2 separate regions of the Homo sapiens genome follow, and region 1 is linked to region 2. Evidence: fine-mapped expression QTL. A gene starts in region 2. The other region holds a variant in brackets. All regions are shown on one strand. Distances are between the middles of the regions.

The links. PIP is the estimated chance that this variant, and not a neighbour inherited with it, causes the effect. A credible set is the group of variants that fine-mapping cannot tell apart.
Region 1: its variant is the best candidate, but not a certain one, in a credible set for the expression of DNLZ in spinal cord (GTEx, PIP 0.54).

The regions. Positions count from the first base shown.
Region 1 is chr9:136,383,230-136,391,229 of GRCh38, reverse strand. It overlaps SNAPC4 (small nuclear RNA activating complex polypeptide 4), which reads left to right. Exons shown (of 24, transcript NM_003086.4): 11 at 2,639-2,786; 12 at 3,382-3,488; 13 at 3,651-3,745; 14 at 6,416-6,510; 15 at 7,198-7,277; 16 at 7,562-8,000. Among named protein-coding and RNA genes, the nearest start is that of SNAPC4, 13 kb to the left of the region's middle. The variant C/T (reference allele first, on the strand shown) is at 3,175.
Region 2 is chr9:136,357,614-136,367,725 of GRCh38, reverse strand. DNLZ (DNL-type zinc finger) reads left to right here and starts at 3,982. Exons shown (of 3, transcript NM_001080849.3): 1 at 3,982-4,239; 2 at 4,598-4,737; 3 at 5,546-8,243. The coding sequence starts at 4,012. The coding sequence ends at 5,714. It overlaps CARD9 (caspase recruitment domain family member 9), which reads left to right. Exons shown (of 13, transcript NM_052813.5): 8 at 1-89; 9 at 469-510; 10 at 881-926; 11 at 2,509-2,585; 12 at 3,167-3,243; 13 at 3,325-3,770. The coding sequence ends at 3,424. LOC124902309 (a long non-coding RNA gene) reads right to left here and starts at 4,357. Exons shown (of 2, transcript XR_007061863.1): 1 at 4,274-4,357; 2 at 1-102. GPSM1 (G protein signaling modulator 1) reads right to left here. Exons shown (of 14, transcript NM_001145638.3): 14 at 8,125-9,712. The coding sequence ends at 9,506. RefSeq lists enhancers at 1,625-2,514, 2,515-3,405 and silencers at 3,617-3,716, 3,747-4,246, 4,347-4,626.

The sequences.
Region 1 (8,000 bases), 25 kb before region 2:
CCAAAACTGTTTTTAAGAAAAAGGTATGTTCTCTGTAAGTAGGGCCTACTCTATATCAGCTATTAAATTGAGTTTGCCTTTAAAGATGCTTAATTCTGCCGGGCACAGTGGCTCACCCCTGTAATCCCAGCACTTTGGGAGGCCGAGGCTGGCGGATCACCTGAGGTCGGGAGTTCAAGACCAGCCTGGCCAACATGGAGAAACCCCGTCTCTACTAAAAATACAAAATTAGCCGGGCGTGGTGGCGGGCATCTGTAGTCCCAGCTACTCGGGAGGCTGAGGCAGGAGAATGGCGTGAACCCGGGAGGCGGAGCTTGCGGTGAGCGGACGTCGCGCCACTGCACTCCAGCCTGGGCGACAGCAAGACTCCGTCTCAAAAAAAAAAAAAATAAATAAATAAATACAAATCGGTTTTTCTTCTATGTATATTTTACTGCTACATAGTTTGGTACACATAACTTTTTTTAATCGGGGTCTGCTTTCTTTTTTTCTTTTTTGTTTTTCATATTTTTTGAGTTCAGGGCTGTGTGTGCAGGATGTGCAGTTTGGTTCCGTAGGTGAGCGTGTGCCATGGTGGTTTGTTGCATAGATCAGCCCATCACCCAGGGATTCAGCCCAGCTTGCGTTAGCTCATTAGCTCTTTTTCTTTCCTTTTTTTTTTTTTTTTTTTTTTTTCAAACAGAGTCTCACTCTGTCGCCCAGGCTGGAGTGCAGTGGCACGATCTCAGCTCACCGCAAGCTCCGCCTCCCGGGTTCACGCCATTCTCCTGCCTCAGCCTCCCGAGTAGCTGGGACTACAGGCGCCCACCACCACGCCCGGCTAATTTTTTGTATTTTTAGTAGAGACGGGGTTTCACTGTGTTAGCCAGGATGGTCTCAGTCTCCTGACGTTGTGATCTGCCGGCCTCAGCCTCCCAAAGTGCTGGGATTACAGACGTGAGCCACCGCGCCCGGCCCATCCCTGTATTTTCAGCCTTTTAACAAATCGTCATTTCCAAGTGTTTTCATGAAAGCAGCGTGCAGCTGGGTTTTGCTTTCCCACCCGCCTGACCAGCCTCTGGCTTTGTGGGAGGGTGGGTGTTCCTGGTGTCCTCCTGGGTCTGGTGTGTCGAGTCCGTTTTACTTTGTGGCCTCTTTTCCTTCCACTCTGTCTTGCTGGTTTGATGAAACTGTAAGTCCGGTTTTTCTCCTTGTGATTTTTGGGAATTCAACTGTCTTCCATCCATTAATGGCTTTTTCTCCTTCGAACACATAGTCAGACATGCTTCTCTGTTAATATCAGAAAGCGTGACGCCAGCACTTTCCCCCGCCAGATTCTTTCTCCTTCCAGGGAAGTGTTTTTAGTCACTGTCAAGAAAAGCCAGGCTAAGGCCTCAGCAGCCTCCCTCCAGCTTCACTCCAGCCACCCTCCAGCCCCCTTTGAGAGCTGCTGCTCTCAGCTACCCGAGCAGGGCCCAGCTCTGAATCCCGCCCCACCCCCCAGTCCTTTGCCTTCCCAACTCCTTCGGCAGGCTTGGGATGGGTGTGAGAAGGGTCTCTCTTTCCACTGGTTGGGAAGCGCCAGCTTGAGTGTAGGAGGACGGGTGAGGCCTTGAGTGTGTTATGTTCCCAGAAGCACTCTCTTGGGGGCGTGCGGGCGAGGCTCACACACGTTGACTAGGATTGCCCTGCAGCTTGCACACCCCGGGGTGGTGGTTTTGTTTGTGGTGAACGAGTCTCAGATAGACCTGTGATGTAGCGAGCTGGGAAGGACTTGGTGGGGAAGAAAGCCTTGGAAGCAAAACTCACAGCTCAGCGGCACCACATCCAGCTCTGCGTGCCCTCTGCCACCCAGCAGCTCACTTTCAGAAAAAGCAAACCTCACAGCACGTCCAGCCCCACGCGCCCTCTGCCACCCAGCAGCTCACTTTCAGAAAAAGCAAACCTCAGAGCATATCTAGCCCTGTGTGCCCTGTGCCACCCAGCAGCTCACTTTCAGAGAACAGGGTTCAGGTAGCACTCATCAGCTCTTGGAAAACCCCTTGAGAAGATGAGTGAGGAAAAGATTTGGGCAGATGGTCCACTGTGTGGACTGAGGGTGGGTTTGCTGAGCCGAGCCACACAGGGAAGCTGGGAGAGTCATTTTGGGGCACTCTCTTCTGAGGGCGTCTCCTGAGACATGGACACCAAACCAAGGGCTGTCCCGTACCTCCTCCACCCCATACCCCTTAGCTGAGAGATACTCTAGAGCTCGAGAAGGGAGAGAAGGTGCTAGCAACTGCATTTAGAGAGCATGCCACATGCAGAGCAGTGCGTCTCCCAGCCCTTGCCAAGCTGGGAGTTTCTGTTGAGTGAGTTGCAGTGTGGTTTTGGAGTCATATCAGTTTACCTATTGTGAATTTTTCTTAATATTTTCTTAAGTGAAGGTTTGATTCCTCTCTCACCTGGTCCTTCCTGGTCCTATTTAGTGAGTGTATTGTCTTCCTACCGTGGGGTGCTCTCCATCAGCCCACAGGAGTCTGGGAGGAGGAGAGCTGGGGTCTGCAGAAGGGTCACCCCAGTGGCTCATGGGCCCACCTGTGCCCTGGGGCACTCAGAGCCAGATCTGGACATCCTGCCGCGCAGTAACACTCATTTGCTTTTGTTTGGGCCTGGGAAGACCAGCCGCAGCGCCTTCCAGTGCCTGCAGAAATTCCAGCAGCACAACAAAGCTCTGAAACGCAAGGAGTGGACAGAGGAGGAGGACCGCATGCTCACGCAGCTGGTGCAGGAGATGCGCGTCGGCAGCCACATCCCCTACCGCAGAAGTGAGGCCCCTCCACCCCGACGGCTCTCAGGCTGTCACAGGGCCCCATATCAGGACACTGGAGACTTGCAGGGAAAATTCACAGAGAAGCAACAAGACAGACGAGGGCTTAGACAGTCCTGGCTGTTCCACAGTTCGCTTCTTGGTGACTCAAGTGACTTTTTTTTTTTTTTTTTTGAGATGGAGTTTCACTCTTGTTGCCCAGGATGGAGTGCAACGCCATGATCTTGGCTCACTGCAACCTCTGCCTCCCGGGTTCAAGCGATTCTCGTGCCTCAGCCTCCCAAGTAGCTGGGATTACAGGCATGCGCCACCACGCCCAGCTAATTTTGTATTTTTAGTAGAGACGGGGTTTCACCATGTTGGTCAGGCTGGTCTCGAACTCCTGA[C/T]CTTAGGTGATCCGCCAGCCTCTGCCTCCCAAAGTGCTGGGATGACAGGCATGATGCCACTGCACCTGGCCAAAGTGATTCTTTTCTATGTGACCCATCTGGAGGGTGGGTGTCTCGGCCCCACGGGACCCTGTTGTCCCTAGCTGTCTACTCTATGGAGGGTGTGTGTCTCGGCCCCACAGGACCTCCCTGTTCCTCTGTCCCTAGTTGTCTACTATATGGAAGGGAGAGACTCCATGCAGCTGATCTACCGATGGACCAAGAGCTTGGATCCTGGTCTGAAGAAGGGTTACTGGGCCCCGGAGGAAGATGCTGTAAGTGTGCGGGACCCTAGGAGAACTGGGCTCTGGGAAGGTAACGCGGCTGTGTTCAGCGGCTGCTGTGCCCCAGTGGTCCCTTCTCTGACTGGGTTCAGGGTGGGGAGGCTGCAGCCGTACCTGCAGAGGCTTCACTTGTCTGCCTGTCCCTTCCTGCAGAAGTTGCTTCAAGCTGTTGCCAAATACGGGGAGCAGGATTGGTTTAAAATCCGGGAAGAGGTGCCAGGTAGGAGCGATGCCCAGTGCCGAGATCGGTGAGTCGCACAGCGCTGAGCGAGGGAGGGGCCCGTGTGGGTCACTGACCAGGTGCACTCTGGTGTGGGCTGTGGGCGGGCTGGGGGACAGCGGCCAGCGCTGGGCGAGGGAGGGGCCCGTGTGGGTCGCTGACCAGGTGCACTCTGGTGTGGGCTGTGGGCGCTTGCTTGCCAGGGTTGGCCCGGCTGAGCTGTGTTTTCCAAGCCTGACTTCTGTATTGCTGTCTGCCGGAGCAACGCATGGGCTCCACTTGAGACAGCTCCCTGGGCGGCTTTTCCTGACCCTAGTTGTCTCAGTTCTCTCAGAATGCTGATAGGCAGGACCTCTGGGCACACAGCTGCAGCTCCCTCCTTTTCCTGCTTATTTTCCTTTCAAAAACAGCTTCGTTGAGATAATTCACACACCATGCGATGCGTTCATTTAAAGTGTATATTTCCGAAGCTGGGCGCAGTGGCTCACGCCTGTAATCCCAGTACTTTGGGAGGTCAAGGCAGGCGGATCACTTGAGGCCAGGTCAAAACCCCGTCTCTACGAAACCCCATCTCTACTAAAAGCACAAAAGTTACCCGGGCATGGTGGGGGTGGCGCCTGTAATCCCAGCTACTTGGGAGGCTGAGGCAGGAGAATCGCTTGAGCCTGGGAGGTGGATGTTGCAGTAAGCTGAGATCACGCCACAGCACTCCAGCCTGGGTGACAGAGCAAGACTGTCTCAAAAAAATATTAATTAATTAATTAAAATGAAGTGTAGAAGGCCAGGTTCAGTGGCTCACGCCTATAATCCCAACACTTTGGGAGGCCGAGGCCGGCGGATCACCTGAGGTTGGGAGTTTGAGACCAGCCTGACCAACATGGAGAAACCCCGTCTCTACTAAAAATACAAAATTAGCCGGGCGTGGTGGCACATGCCTGTAATCCCAGCTACTCGGGAGGCTGAGGCAGGAGAATCGCTTGAAACTGGGAGGCGGAGGATGCAGTGAGCCGAGATCACGCCATTGCACTCTAGCCTGGGCGACGAGTGAAACTCCGTCTCAAAAAAAAAAAAAAAAAAATGAAGTGTAGAGGTAGAGGTCAGTGGTTTTTAGTATTTAGTATTCATTGAGCTGTGCAGCCATCACCACAATCAATTGTAAAACATTTCATCACCCGAAAAAGCCATTCAACGACAAAAACAACCCAATCTAATCGCGGGCAAAGAACTTGAGTGGCCGTCTCTCCAAAGAAGATGCACAGATGGCCAGTGAGCACATGAAGAGATGCCTGGCGCCATGAGTCATTAGGGAAGTGCAAGTCAAAACCACACACGCGTTGGGATGGCTGTTAATTAAAAAAAAAAAAAAGTCACCGTGTTGGCAAGGATGTCGAGAAATTGAAACCTTTGTGCGTTGTAAAATGGTCCAGCCTCTTTGGAAAGCATGGCAGTTCGTCAGCGAGTTAAACATAGAATTATACCCCCAAGATTGATAAGCATAAAACCCAAAAGAATCGAAAGTAGGAGCTCAGATACAACAATGTCCACAGCAGCATCATTCACAAGAGTGAAAGGCCGGAAGCAGCCCAAGCATTCATCAGCAGATGAGTGGAAAATAAAATTTTCATACAAGGGAATATTATTCGGCCTTAAAAAGGGGTTGGCAGGGCTCGGTGGCTCACGCCTGTAATCCTAGCACTTTGGGAGGCCAAGGCGGACAGATCATGAGGTCAGGAGTTCAAGACCAGCCTGGCCAATATGGTAAAACCCTGTCTCTACTAAAAATACAAAAACTAGCCACACATGGTGGTGGGCACCTGTAATCCCAGCTACTCGGGAGGCTGAGGCAGGAGAATCACTTGAACCTGGGAGTTGGTGGTTGCAGCGAGCTGAGATTGCGCCACTGCACTCCAGCCTGGGCGACAGTGAGCCTCCGTCTCAAAAAAAACAAAAGGGGGGGGAGTGGGATTCTCATATAAATACCGCGTTTCTGTAAATTCTGATACAACATGGATGAACCCTGAAAACATTCTGAACATTTGCTTGCACTTTTTTACATAGATATCTGTTTATTTCTCTCAGCTATATCCTGCGAGTGAAATTGCTCGGTCCGGGTAACGCTGTGTTTAACCTTTTGAGGAATGGCCAGACTGTTTCCCAAAGAGGTTGAACCATTTCGTATTCCCACTAGGAATGTATGAGGGCTCCGGTTTTCCACACTCTCACCAGCACTTGTGATCTGTCTGTGATTCTAGCCATCTTAGCGGGTGTGAAGTGGTGTCTTGTGGTTTTGACGTGCGCTTCCCTGTGGCTGATGTGGAGCCTCTTTTCATGTGGTTGGTGACTGTTCATAGAAATAGGTTTTTAGAGAAGTGTCTGTTGAAGTCCTTTGCCCATTTTTGACATTACTTGTCTAGTTATGACTGACTTGTAAGAGTTCTTCATATGTTTCAGATATAAGTCCTTTATCGGACACGTGACTTGCAAACGTTCTCTCCCAGCCTGTACACTTTCTACTTTTTTGATGGTGTCCTTTGGGACACAAAAGCTTTAGCTTTTGATGAAGTCTACTTTATCTGTAGTTTTCTTTTGTTGCTTGCGCCTTTAGTGTCATATCCAAGAAACCATTAAAGAAGCTTGGGGCAGCAGCGGGCGGCGTCTCGGCATCTAAAACGTTCTTTGCTTTTCATGTCACGTTCAGGTATCTCAGGAGATTACATTTCAGCTTGAAAAAGGGTCGGTGGAATTTAAAAGAAGAGGAACAGTTAATTGAATTAATAGAAAAATATGGTGTCGGTAAGTTGCTGACAGTTTGTTCTTCTAGTTTCTTTTTTTTGTTTTTTGTTTCTTAGAAAAGAGATCAAGATAAAGACAGAGCAAGCTCTGTCGTCCAGGCTGGGGTGCGGTGGTGCGACCATAGCCCACTGCAGCCTCAAACTTTTGGGCTCAAGCCATCCTCCCGCCCCAGCCTCCCAAGTAGCTGGGACTGCAGGTGTGTGCCACCACACCCGACGAGCTGAGTGTTCTGTAGCGAAGTCTTTGCTTATATTTGCAATGTCCCCTTAGAGTAAATCCTAGCTGTGGTATTGCCACGTTCAAGGACACACCAGATACTGTGGCTCTGCCCTGTGAGAGCAGCACCCGTGCTCCTCCTGCTGCCCCACACTGTGAAGAGCGGGAATCGTGGGAGGTGGCTGGTGCGGAAGCCTGGGGGGAGCAGATATGTGAGGGCCGTGGTGTGCGCTTAGGACGATTTTTCCTTCTCAGTTACATGTTTGGCAGAACTTTCCTAAGGGGCTGAGCATCCAATGAGAATCAGATGCTGCCAAATTGTAGGCACCCAACATGCTTGACCCCCCAGCGTGAGAGTGCACAGGAGGCTCCACTCTGATGGGGCCACGGCGAGTCTCCTGGGGAACAGCAAGCCTGTCCTGGGGAAGAATCTTTGGATGAAGGCATTTCCATGGGGTTTGGCTTTTGCAGGTCACTGGGCAAAAATAGCTTCTGAGCTGCCCCATCGGTCTGGCTCCCAGTGTCTGAGCAAGTGGAAGATCATGATGGGGGTGAGCCACTCGCTCCTTCTTTATCTGAAACCAGACAATGGCCTGGTCAACTGGGGGGTCCAGCAGGCAGGAGGAGGGGAGGGGAGGGGGGCGTTCGGTTTCTGGTCTTGGCATTTCTTCTTCTGGGTGGCCAAGGGCAAAGGGAGACCCTGCCTCGGCAGCGGCTGCTCTTGACCCCGGAGGCGCCCCCGCTTGGGCCTCTCCCCAAAGGGCTGGCCTGCTTGCTGCCATCATGGGTGAACCGGGCTTGCCAAGGCCTCTAAGTAGCTCTTTCCTCCCCTCAGAAGAAGCAGGGTCTCCGGAGGCGGCGGCGGAGGGCCCGTCACAGCGTCCGGTGGAGCTCTACCAGCAGCAGCGGCAGCAGCAGTGGCAGCAGTGGAGGGAGCAGCAGCAGCAGCAGCAGCAGCAGCGAGGAGGACGAGCCAGAGCAGGCGCAGGCCGGGGAGGGTGACAGAGCGCTGCTGTCCCCACAGTACATGGTCCCGGACATGGACCTGTGGGTTCCTGCCAGGCAGAGCACCAGCCAGCCATGGAGAGGAGGGGCAGGGGCCTGGCTGGGAGGCCCCGCTGCCTCCCTCAGCCCTCCCAAGGGGTCCAGTGCCAGCCAGGGCGGCAGCAAGGAAGCTTCCACCACAGCCGCGGCTCCTGGAGAGGAGACGAGTCCGGTGCAGGTCCCTGCCAGGGCCCACGGCCCTGTCCCGAGGTCTGCCCAGGCCTCCCACT
Region 2 (10,112 bases):
AGCTGCAGCTGCAGGTGTTCCAGTGTGAGGCGCAGCTACTGGCCGTGGAGGGCAGGCTCAGGCGGCAGCAGCTGGAGACGCTCGTCCTGGTGGGCCTGGGGCCTGCGGCAGGGAGGGGAGCCGGCGCGTGGGATGCAGGGCCAGGGGAGCACGGAGCCTCAGCCCCGGCCTTCCCGACCCAACCCTTCTCTGTGACGGGCCCCAACCTAACCAAACCCCTCCTGGCAGTGGGGTGAGGGCACACGAGCAGTTCAGGGTCCCAGCAGGAAGTGGGGCTGCAGGGCCGGGGTGGGTCCTGGGCCTGGCCATCAGGCAGCCTAGCAGGTTGTTCTGGGCATGGAGGGGGCCTGGTGTGGCTGAGGGCATGCCCAGGGCTCCCTGGAGGATCCCGCTCTGTGCCCTGCCCACCCTGTGCCTGGGGAGCCCTCTGCCCTCACAGCCCACCCACCCCATTTTCTATGACCACAGAGCTCCGACCTGGAAGATGGCTCACCCAGGAGGTCCCAGGAGGTGAGTGAGACCCCAGCCAGCACGAGGCTGGCCTTCCTTCACCTGGGGTCCTGGCTGAGCTGCCACCAGGCATAGCCCCACACTGCCCGTCACATGGCCCTGCTCGGTGGGCTGGGCTGGGTGGAGGAAGAGCAGGTGGCCAAATGCTAAGGCCTCTGATGGCTCAAGGGGTAAGGTAAGGCACGGACAGTGCCCACCTCCTGGCCGCCCAATGTCCGTCTGCTGGGCACCTGAGTCTCTGAGAAGCTCTGTGCAGGGGGTGACGGCAATGGCTGCACCCAGCTGAGGGCCAAGGGCTGGGGTGGGCAGTGTGGCCGGGTCCAGTCCTTGGCGAAGTGGCCTAATGGGACATCTTGACTCTCTTTGGAAGCTCTCACTCCCCCAGGACCTGGAGGACACCCAGCTCTCAGACAAAGGTGAGGTGGGGACAGCAGTACACCCAGAGGCCTCCCAGCTTCCCCAAGTGAGGCCCATCTTCAGCACAGGCAGCCCGTGCCGCAATGCCTGTGTCAACCCCCACAACCCCCACTCCACAGACAGGGAAACTGGGGCTGGGGATAAGTAAAATGGTCAAGGTCACCTAGAGAACAAACTACAGAGCCCAGCTGGAACCCAGGGCCCCAGCTAGTGGGACAAGTGTCCCCTGGGGTGGAGAGTGTGGGGGTCTGGGCAGCCCCCATGGGCTGCAGAGGTGAGCAGGCCCACCGTCCTGAGAGTGTGGGGCCCCTCTGGGCAGCCCCCACGGGGTGCAGAGGTGAGCAGGCCCAGTCCTGGCTGCTCCAAGCTTCCTCCTGGACAGAGGGAGGTGGTAACGAGCGAACGACCAGGTGCATGAAGCTAGAAGATGGGGCGAGATGGGGCCCCACGTGGCTTGAGGGAAAGGGCTGAATGCAGGGGTGGCCAAGGGCCTGCTGTGTCCCGGTGCAGTGGGGGTAAGGCAGTGGCAGGGGCTTCTAGCGGGCAGGGCAGGCCCCCTCTGCCTGTCTGGGGGAAGGACTGGGTGGCTAGCTGGGAGCAGCTCCCGAGTGTCCAGGAGTGGGCAGTGGTGATGAGGTAGGTGTTTGCACTGAAGGTGCTGTCAGGTAGGGGTTGGGGAGGGCCCAGCAGAGGGGTCCTGGGAGGCTGCACCGGAGTTGGACAAGCTTCCTGAGTACCAGGCCGTGGCCTCCAAGCAGAGGCGGAAGGGGAAGGAGGAGCCGCAGACGGGGAAGTGAAGACCAGCGCCTTTGGCTGCAGCTCAGAACACTTGAACATGGGGATGCCAAGCCCCCATGTAGGCACAGAGGCGAGCAGGACCCAGGAGTCCGGCTCAGGCACTGCCCCCATCCCCCTGGGTGGCTGTGGCAGGAGCAGGGGCAGGTGTGAAGGTTGGAGGGTGAGCAGGGGAGGGGCTGGCTCTAAGGGGCTGCCAATGGCCAGGACAGCCCTGGCCTGGCCCTCACCGCAGTGGGGCTGAGACTGGACGTGCGTGGTTTCTGCCCAAGGGTCCTGATCCCTGGTCTGCCCAGGTCCTGGCGGTTTCTGAGGGGGTCCAGCCGCCTGAAGGTTCTCTCCCAATTGCTGCAGTACCCCTGCCCCCACTTCAGGAGGACCCAGACAGCCACTGTAGCTGTCCCCAACTCTCTCCCCAGGGCCGCCATGCCCACAGATGCTTTGGAGTGATGGGGGACGGTGCTGCTCAGGCCCAGGGTTTAAGTTCCCCCGAGGTCTGGGAGGCGTTCCTCCCTGGCAGGCAGCCAGCTCGGGGGAGGGATGGTCACTGGCGGGAGCGTTGGGCCTGGGCTGGCATCTGGCGGCCTCCTGGAGCAATGAACAGGCAAGCGAGGCCATAAGGCCTCAGTCTCATCTACAGAAAGCAGAGTCTACACTGGACCCATGTGGGGATCCCACCAGGCCTTGGAAGACAGCCCCACTGCAATGCCGGGGAGGGGTGGGGCAGCCGTGCTATACGTGGCCCAGCAGATGGGCAGGTCCCACAGGCACGACTCTCCTTTCCAGGCTGCCTTGCCGGCGGGGGGAGCCCGAAACAGCCCTTTGCAGCTCTGCACCAGGAGCAGGTTTTGCGGAACCCCCATGTAAGGCTTCCCCGGGGTGGGGTCCTCCCAGCCGTGGGCCTCAGGGTGACCGATCACAGGGAGAGTGGCTCCCTGCCCTGGGCACCCCCTGCGGTGGCCCCGACGACAGCTGAGGAGTGACCACAAGGTCTCTGCCCACAGTGCTCGGGGTGCGGTGTCTGGGCTGCGAAGTGGATCCCCCTTTCTTGGGCACTGCAGCAGCTTGGGGGGCTTTTTGGACGTGGATGTGCCTGGTCCTGGTTTTCCGAGGGCCTTTACAGTGGATGAGGAGGTGAACACAGGAGTCCTGAGAGCAAGCACCACCTCGGGCTTTGTTGTAGAAACAATGGCCCGGACCCCAGGCTGGAGCCGTGGCTTGGCCTCCTGGGTGTGTCTTGGCATCTGAAATGCAGGCTACCCACACCGGCTCACCTCCAGGGGTACAGGCAGGTCCCACAGGGAGAGCTTGGCGCTGAGCTGAGGCTGTCTGGGCTCCTCGCCTCCCAACCAGTCTGCAGTTACAGGGGCCAGTGGGGGGCGGGTGAGAAGGACGGGTTCCCTCAGGGGAGCCGGCCGGAGCCCGAGCCTTCCCCCTTCTCCAGGACGCAGGCCTGAGCAGCGGGGAGCCGCCCGAGAAGGAGCGGCGGCGCCTCAAAGAGAGTTTTGAGAACTACCGCAGGTAGGCGGGCGGCCCCCAGGCTTCTCCAAAACGGGCTGGGGAGCGGCAGCCGGGTCGCGCCTGAGACACCTGTCTTCACAGGAAGCGCGCCCTCAGGAAGATGCAGAAAGGATGGCGGCAGGGGGAGGAGGACCGGGAGAACACCACGGGCAGCGACAACACCGACACTGAGGGCTCCTAGCCGCAGCAGCGCAGGCCCCGACCAGGGCACACCCACCGGCCCGGCCTCCTGCCACCCGGGGGTGCCGACGCCCTGGGGCGCAGACTTCCCCGAGCCGTCGCTGACTTGGCCTGGAACGAGGAATCTGGTGCCCTGAAAGGCCCAGCCGGACTGCCGGGCATTGGGGCCGTTTGTTAAGCGGCACTCATTTTGCGGAGGCCATGCGGGTGCTCACCACCCCCATGCACACGCCATCTGTGTAACTTCAGGATCTGTTCTGTTTCACCATGTAACACACAATACATGCATGCATTGTATTAGTGTTAGAAAACACAGCTGCGTAAATAAACAGCACGGGTGACCCGCATTCCCGCTCGGACACTCGCGCGCAGCCCCGCGGCCGTCCCTCCTCGCTGCGGCCCGCGGTGTCCTCGGGGTGCGAGCTGCACGTGGACGCAGGGCCCCCTCAGGCCGCCAGGGGGCGGCATAGCGCAGCGCGCCCCCGACCCGGAAGACGGAAGCCCAAGAACGCCGCTTCCGCCCGGCGCCCACTTCCAAGATGGCGGCGGGGCGGGGCCGGGGCAGGGCGGACGGAGCCGGCGAGCGGGATGCTGCGGACTGCGCTGCGCGGCGCGCCGAGGTTGCTGAGTCGCGTGCAGCCCCGGGCGCCCTGCCTGAGGCGGCTGTGGGGCCGCGGGGCCCGTCCAGAGGTCGCGGGGAGGCGGCGGGCCTGGGCCTGGGGCTGGCGGCGCTCAAGCTCCGAGCAGGGGCCGGGGCCCGCGGCGGCTCTGGGGCGCGTGGAGGCGGCGCACTACCAGCTCGTCTACACCTGCAAGGTAGGCGCGCGGCGGGACGGAACCGGGGACAGACCCGTATCTGACGCTACACGGCCTGCGGGGAGAAGCGGCCCGCCGGGGATCCGGGAGGCGGCGTGGTCAAGTCACAGGAAGGAGTGGAGCCACCCCTTGGGGCTTCTGGGAGGGAGCGGAGGCGGACCATGAGGAGGGGTGGAGCCGTCCCTGGGGCGGGGCCTTCCCGGGAGAGGGCGAGGTTGGGGGTGGGTGGAGCTATCCCTCGGGGGCGGGGCCTTCTCTGGAGAGGGTGAGGTGGCTGGAGCTACCCCTAGAGGGGCGGGTCTTCCCGGGAGGGGCGTGGCGGCCCTCACAGCCTCACCAGCTACCCTGTCCCAGCCAGGTCTGCGGGACTAGGTCCTCCAAGCGCATCTCCAAGCTGGCCTATCACCAAGGCGTGGTCATTGTGACCTGCCCCGGCTGCCAGAACCACCATATCATCGCTGACAACCTGGGCTGGTTCTCGGACCTGAATGGGAAGAGGTGAGGCCTGTACCCCAGGGCTGGGCCAGAAGGCCACCCAGAAGTACCCTGGCCTCCCTGGGGGAACCTTGCCCTAGTGTTGAGGTTTATAGATCTCACCTGGGAAATCCAGCCACCTTATCAATACAAGACACACAGTTAAATGAGAATTTCCTATAAAGCCCAGATAGCTTTTGAGTTTAAGTATGCCCCAAGTAGGGGGTGCGTTTTTATTTGTTAAATTTTGCCAGCCCTGTGGCCCTGCCTCCCTGCCTCTGCCTGCCCTCTGCCATCACTGGCAGCCTTGTCCCTCTCTAGCGTGGAACTTTTTTGCCCTCTGCCATCTTGGGGTGGCTGGCCCACAGCAAGGCTTGGGGTGTGGACCAGGAGGTGTGGCCTGGGCCCTGGCTGCTGGGAGAGCAGTGGAGGTGGTGCCGGGAGCCTGGTCCGGGCCTTGCCTGGCCGGGAGGTCCTGGGCAGGACAGTAACAGCGACAGCAGGTCTGAGACCAGCATGCCAGGTGCTTGGTGGTACCTGGCCCTTGGAGCTGGGACTGTCCTCCCATCAGACCCGGGGCTGCAGATTCTTCCCTCTGGCACATAGGGGGCAGGAGCAGGAGACTGGGTTCCTGAGGCGGCGCATACCGGCAGAGACACAGGGCTGGTGAGGGCACACAGGCCAGCGTCTGAAGTGCCCGTGTGGCCTGATGCCACAGGAGTGCTGGGCCTGGTGCTTGCAGCTCTGGCCTGGCCATGGGGCGCCCTGAGGGGACTGAAGTGCAGGGCGGCTGGGGGGCCCTGAAGAGCCATGTTGCCTCCCTGCCCCCCAGAAATATCGAAGAGATCCTGACGGCCAGAGGCGAGCAGGTGCACCGTGTGGCGGGCGAGGGGGCCCTGGAACTGGTTCTGGAGGCTGCAGGGGCCCCCACATCCACTGCAGCTCCGGAAGCGGGTGAGGATGAGGGTCCCCCCAGCCCTGGCAAGACGGAGCCGAGCTGACTCCTGCGCTCCCCGGCACTGTGGGACTTCGGCCTTCCAGAAGGAGGTTTTGGCCCTGGGCCTCTCTGGACGTGGCCTGTTTTCTATCAATAAACAGACATTACTTCCAGATGCTGGGGCCTGTGGCCCTCGTGGCCTTTCTTTTTCTGGAGTTAGAACGATTGCTCTGAATCCCTGGTGCTGCTGGGTGGGACATAGGAGCCGCAGGACCTCTCGCCTCACCACAGTTCCTTCTACACAGAGTCACCCAGCTCTTGCCCACAGAGGCCACAGTCGCGTGGAAAGGGGGCTGGATGTGGCGTCAGAGCCCTTCCTGGCTGTCGCTGCGTGACTTTGAGCAGGTCACCACCCCTGTGAGCCTCAGCCTTCCTCTGCAAGGCCCTTGCCGCCCCCCTGGCCAGCTCTGGCGGCCTCCCTTCCGTGAGCCAGTGCAGACCTGAGCCCTGGTCCTCGGCCGCCGGCCGTCGGCGAAACAGTGAGCAAACCAGGCTGCCTGCTGGCCCAGGCAGGACGAGCAGCTATGGCGTGGCCGTGTGTTAGGAGCTCCAGACCCCTCCCGGGGGAGCCACCTGGGCCTCCTTCCCTCGGTGGACAGCGCTCTGGACGTCCCCAGGGCCCTCCGAGGTGTGTGGGGTTTGTCTCCCAGCCTTGTCTGTGCGCAGGATGTTCCCGTGTTTATGAAAGCGAGCAAACACAGCAGCCTGTTTATTTGCAGAAGCGTTCTGGGCAGCGTAACCTTCAGCATTCATCACCCGCCACACTCCGGCAGGGAAGAGAATGGGGCGAGGTGGGAGGTGGAGGCAGGACTGAGCACGACAGGGACCCAGTGCGGCCCCTCCCAGCGGGACACGGCCAGGACTGCCAGCTCACATCCGGCCCGTGGGAGGCCGGGGCGCGGCGGCATCGTTCCCAGTGTGCTTGTGGCGTGGGCTTTGCCTCGATTACCCCCTGTCCTTCTTTCAGCCAACAACCCTCTATTATTCCCACCCAGAGCCTTCTGTGCCATTTGTGGAAACTGTCCTCTTCTCGGCTGAGCCACCGGCACCCAGGCCTGCTCCTCCATGGAGGCACTGGCTGGGGGTCTCTTGGGGGCTTGGAAGTGCAGTGGGGCTGGGCTTGGCTTGGCTGCCTCACTGCCTCCAGAGGGCCTGGACCAGCATGTGGGGAGGTCCAGGGAGCCGTCTGGACCTGGAAGTGCAGAATTAGAGCAAGGAGAGCCGCTTGGGCCAACCCCTCCTCTTACGGATGGGGAGATGGCGGCTGGTAGTTGGGATGTGGACGTTACCATGTCTTTTCTGTCTGATGCCAGCACCTCTGGGCCCAGGCTGGCCCTGGAGGGAAATCCTTCCCAAGGCTGGCACGTTCCTAGAGAAGACCTATGGCTACCCCCCGCGTGCCAGAAGCATCCCGCCAGCTCCTGCCTGAGGCCCCCTGGACCCTGTCTCCCTCCGCCCTTCCCTCCCCGCAGCCCCAATCCCACAGCCAGGTTTCTGCAAGGGGCTTTGCCATCCTAATCTCCTGCCACTCTACACCCCCCCGCCCCAGGACATCCCTGCCTCCCGGGCACGGTTGCTGGCCTGGGCATCCCTCGTCACAGCGTCTCTCCAAGCAGGTTCCTCGGCCGCACCTTCAGAGGCTGTCCCAGCCAGTAGCGTGGGCGGCACTGCTGCGCTTCCCTGGCTGTGCGCGGTCCTGGGCCCTGCACGGTTACTTGGACCCTGTGTGCGTGTACCACCACACGCAAGCTGGCTGGGACCCTGGACCTGGAGTACACGTTGATTCTGGTTCCCAAGGCCCCTTCTGGGGTGGAGGAGGCAACGGAGTCAACCAGCACAGAGGCTGTGGCTGCCAACATGGCCAGGTGGGCTGTGGCGAGGGGCAGCAGGACTGCCCGGCGCACCTGTGTGTCCCCTGACGGGGGCCCCGTGGGGGTGCCACCCACCACAAGCAGCGCCCAGACAAGCCCCAAGACTGCAGATCTGCCGTCGGCTCCTCCACTGTGGCTCAGTGTCCAGACCCTGAGCCCAGCCGGATCAGACTCCAGGAAAGGACCTCCCTCCCCCGGGTGCTGGGTGGGCGGCAGCAGGCTGGGTCCTCAGGGGGTCGTGGGGCTGACCTGGGGGCTGCTGCTTCTGGGGGCTGGTCCCGGCCACGTGAGTGTCAGCTCAGAGCATGCTCTGTTTCCCTAGGGGCTGGGAGCGTGAGGAGGTAGGGGTGCAGGAATCAGTGGTGACAGCAGGCAGCCACTTCACCCCTCTGTGCCCCAGCTCCCCCGTGGTTAAATGCAGTGGGAACTCCATCTCTCTGAGGTCTCAGAGGGCCCAGACAGTGGGTATCTGTGGACACTTTGCACAGTGCAGCCTCTTACCGGGTTAGGCCCCCACCCGGGACTAAGCCCATACGGACCACACTCACTTGGCCGACTTTATTTTTCAGGAAAAACAGAAAAACAAATGTACCTCTTGGGTTGGAAAGGACCCATTGACAACATGGCACAGACGTGAGCAATAAATACGCACATACATTCAAGTATGCGGGGGGGCGCTACGTCCTGGAGACCCTGTGTTCGGGCACCTGTCCCTGCTCTCGGGTGCGGCCCTGCCCCTCCAGAAGCAGGTCACCTCACCAGGCCCAGATCTGCCTCTCCATCCTAGCCTGAGAGTGGGGCCTAGAGGCACCCTCCTAGATGGAACTGCCAGCCCTGGGGGCTGTGGGGCCATGGTAGGGCCCTTGGCAGTCTTGGGAGGTGCCAAGGCTGGGTCTGGACAGGAGGAGGCAACCTCAGGCCCCTGGGGCCCATCTCAGGCTCCAGCAGGTCCTGCCAGTCCTAGGATCCCGAACTTGGTGCCCTGTGAGCCCCCTCCCCATGGAGAGAGCAGTGATGTCATCTCCCCCAGCTGGTGGGAGGAGGGGGGTTCTCATATGGGGGGTCTGCAGGGTTGAGCTGAGTGAAGCCTCCCCAGCTTCCACTGACCACCCCCCCACTTGGGTGAGGGTCACAGAGCCTGGTGCTACCTCCCACCCTGACTGGGCACTGCTCTTGCTGCCAGTAAGCATCCCTAGGACCAGGCCCTGCCCTTTTTCCTGGCTTGGGGTTTTGGAATGTCGAAGTTCATGCCCAGCCATTCCCTCTGCTTTAGAGATAGGCCCGGCTCCTGTCGAGGCCCCTGCAGGGCCCTGGGACTCGGCGGGGGGCACCTCAGGGCTGCCACTGCAGCCTGGTCTGCCATGCGTGGTCTGGGGGGCCTTCTGTGGTTGCTGACCTCTGGCCGGGGAGTGGGGAGACAGGCTTGGAGGGAGCCCTGCCCCAGGACGAAGCTGGAGGGGTGGAGCATGCCTGTCACACGGCCATCCCAAGACCAGCTCTGGGGGGACAGAACATGGCCCTGTCCTTGGTGGCCCCAAGAGGCGGCTCAGAGACACCTTTGGGGAGGGTGGGGGAGACAGCAGGGTTTCACATTTGGCAGGGCAGGGCAGAACGGGAAGGGCTTGGGGGAGAGGATGCGGGAGTCTGACAGCACCAGGTCGGGGCCGACATGCCGAAGGCCCCGTCCGGCCTGCGGCAGGGGCAGAAGGGAGGAAGCTGAGGGCCATGGGGGCCAGCCCGGGATGGAAGCACGCCCTCCCACCACGGGCAGCTTGGCCTGAGCCTGTCGCCCTGGGTCGGGGAGGCCGTGGGGCTGCATGCCCAGTGCCTGTCCTCGGCAATGGCCTCGGGAGGACGTGGCTGTGACTGTGAGACCGGCGTCCAGGAGTGGGGGCAGGGTGGGCCTGGCGGTGGGCACAGGGCCTTAGCTCGCACCAGGCTGGCACTGCTGCTGGGGCTCGGGCGGGCCGCCTGCCCCCTGCTCCGGGCCCCCGGCGAGGTCCACCCGCTGCTCGTCCATGCGCTTAGCCTGCACCCTCTGAATGAGGCTGAAGAAGTCCTCGTCCGGCATGGTAGGGCCCCGGGGCAGTACGTCAGGTGGCGGGCAGCGCTGGTCATCGATCCTGGAGGACTGGGTGGACACAGTGCAGTTGGCGGCCTCACCCCCCCAGCCCCAGTGGTCCGGGGCTGGTCAGCAGCGGTGGTTCCAGAGGCCAGCGTGCACTGTTCACGGGCTTCCCCCTGTCCACCCAGGAAATTGGTTCTGGGGCCTGCCTCGCTCTGGGGTCTTGTGCTGGGAGCCCGGGCCCTGAGCGCAGTCTTCTGGTGGCCCCGCCACCAACCCGCAGGAGCCCAGGGCAGGCCCGCCCAGGAAAAGCAGGTCCAGCGATTCCCACTGGGCATGGGTGTGCCAGGCCCAGGAGACAGTGGCTAGGGCGGCGTTGGATGCCTGCTCCCCACATCTGCTGATCCCCAGGGACGGGCATGCGTGGCCGTCCCTCTGCCCAGCCCTGGAAACCAGCACAGCCTGG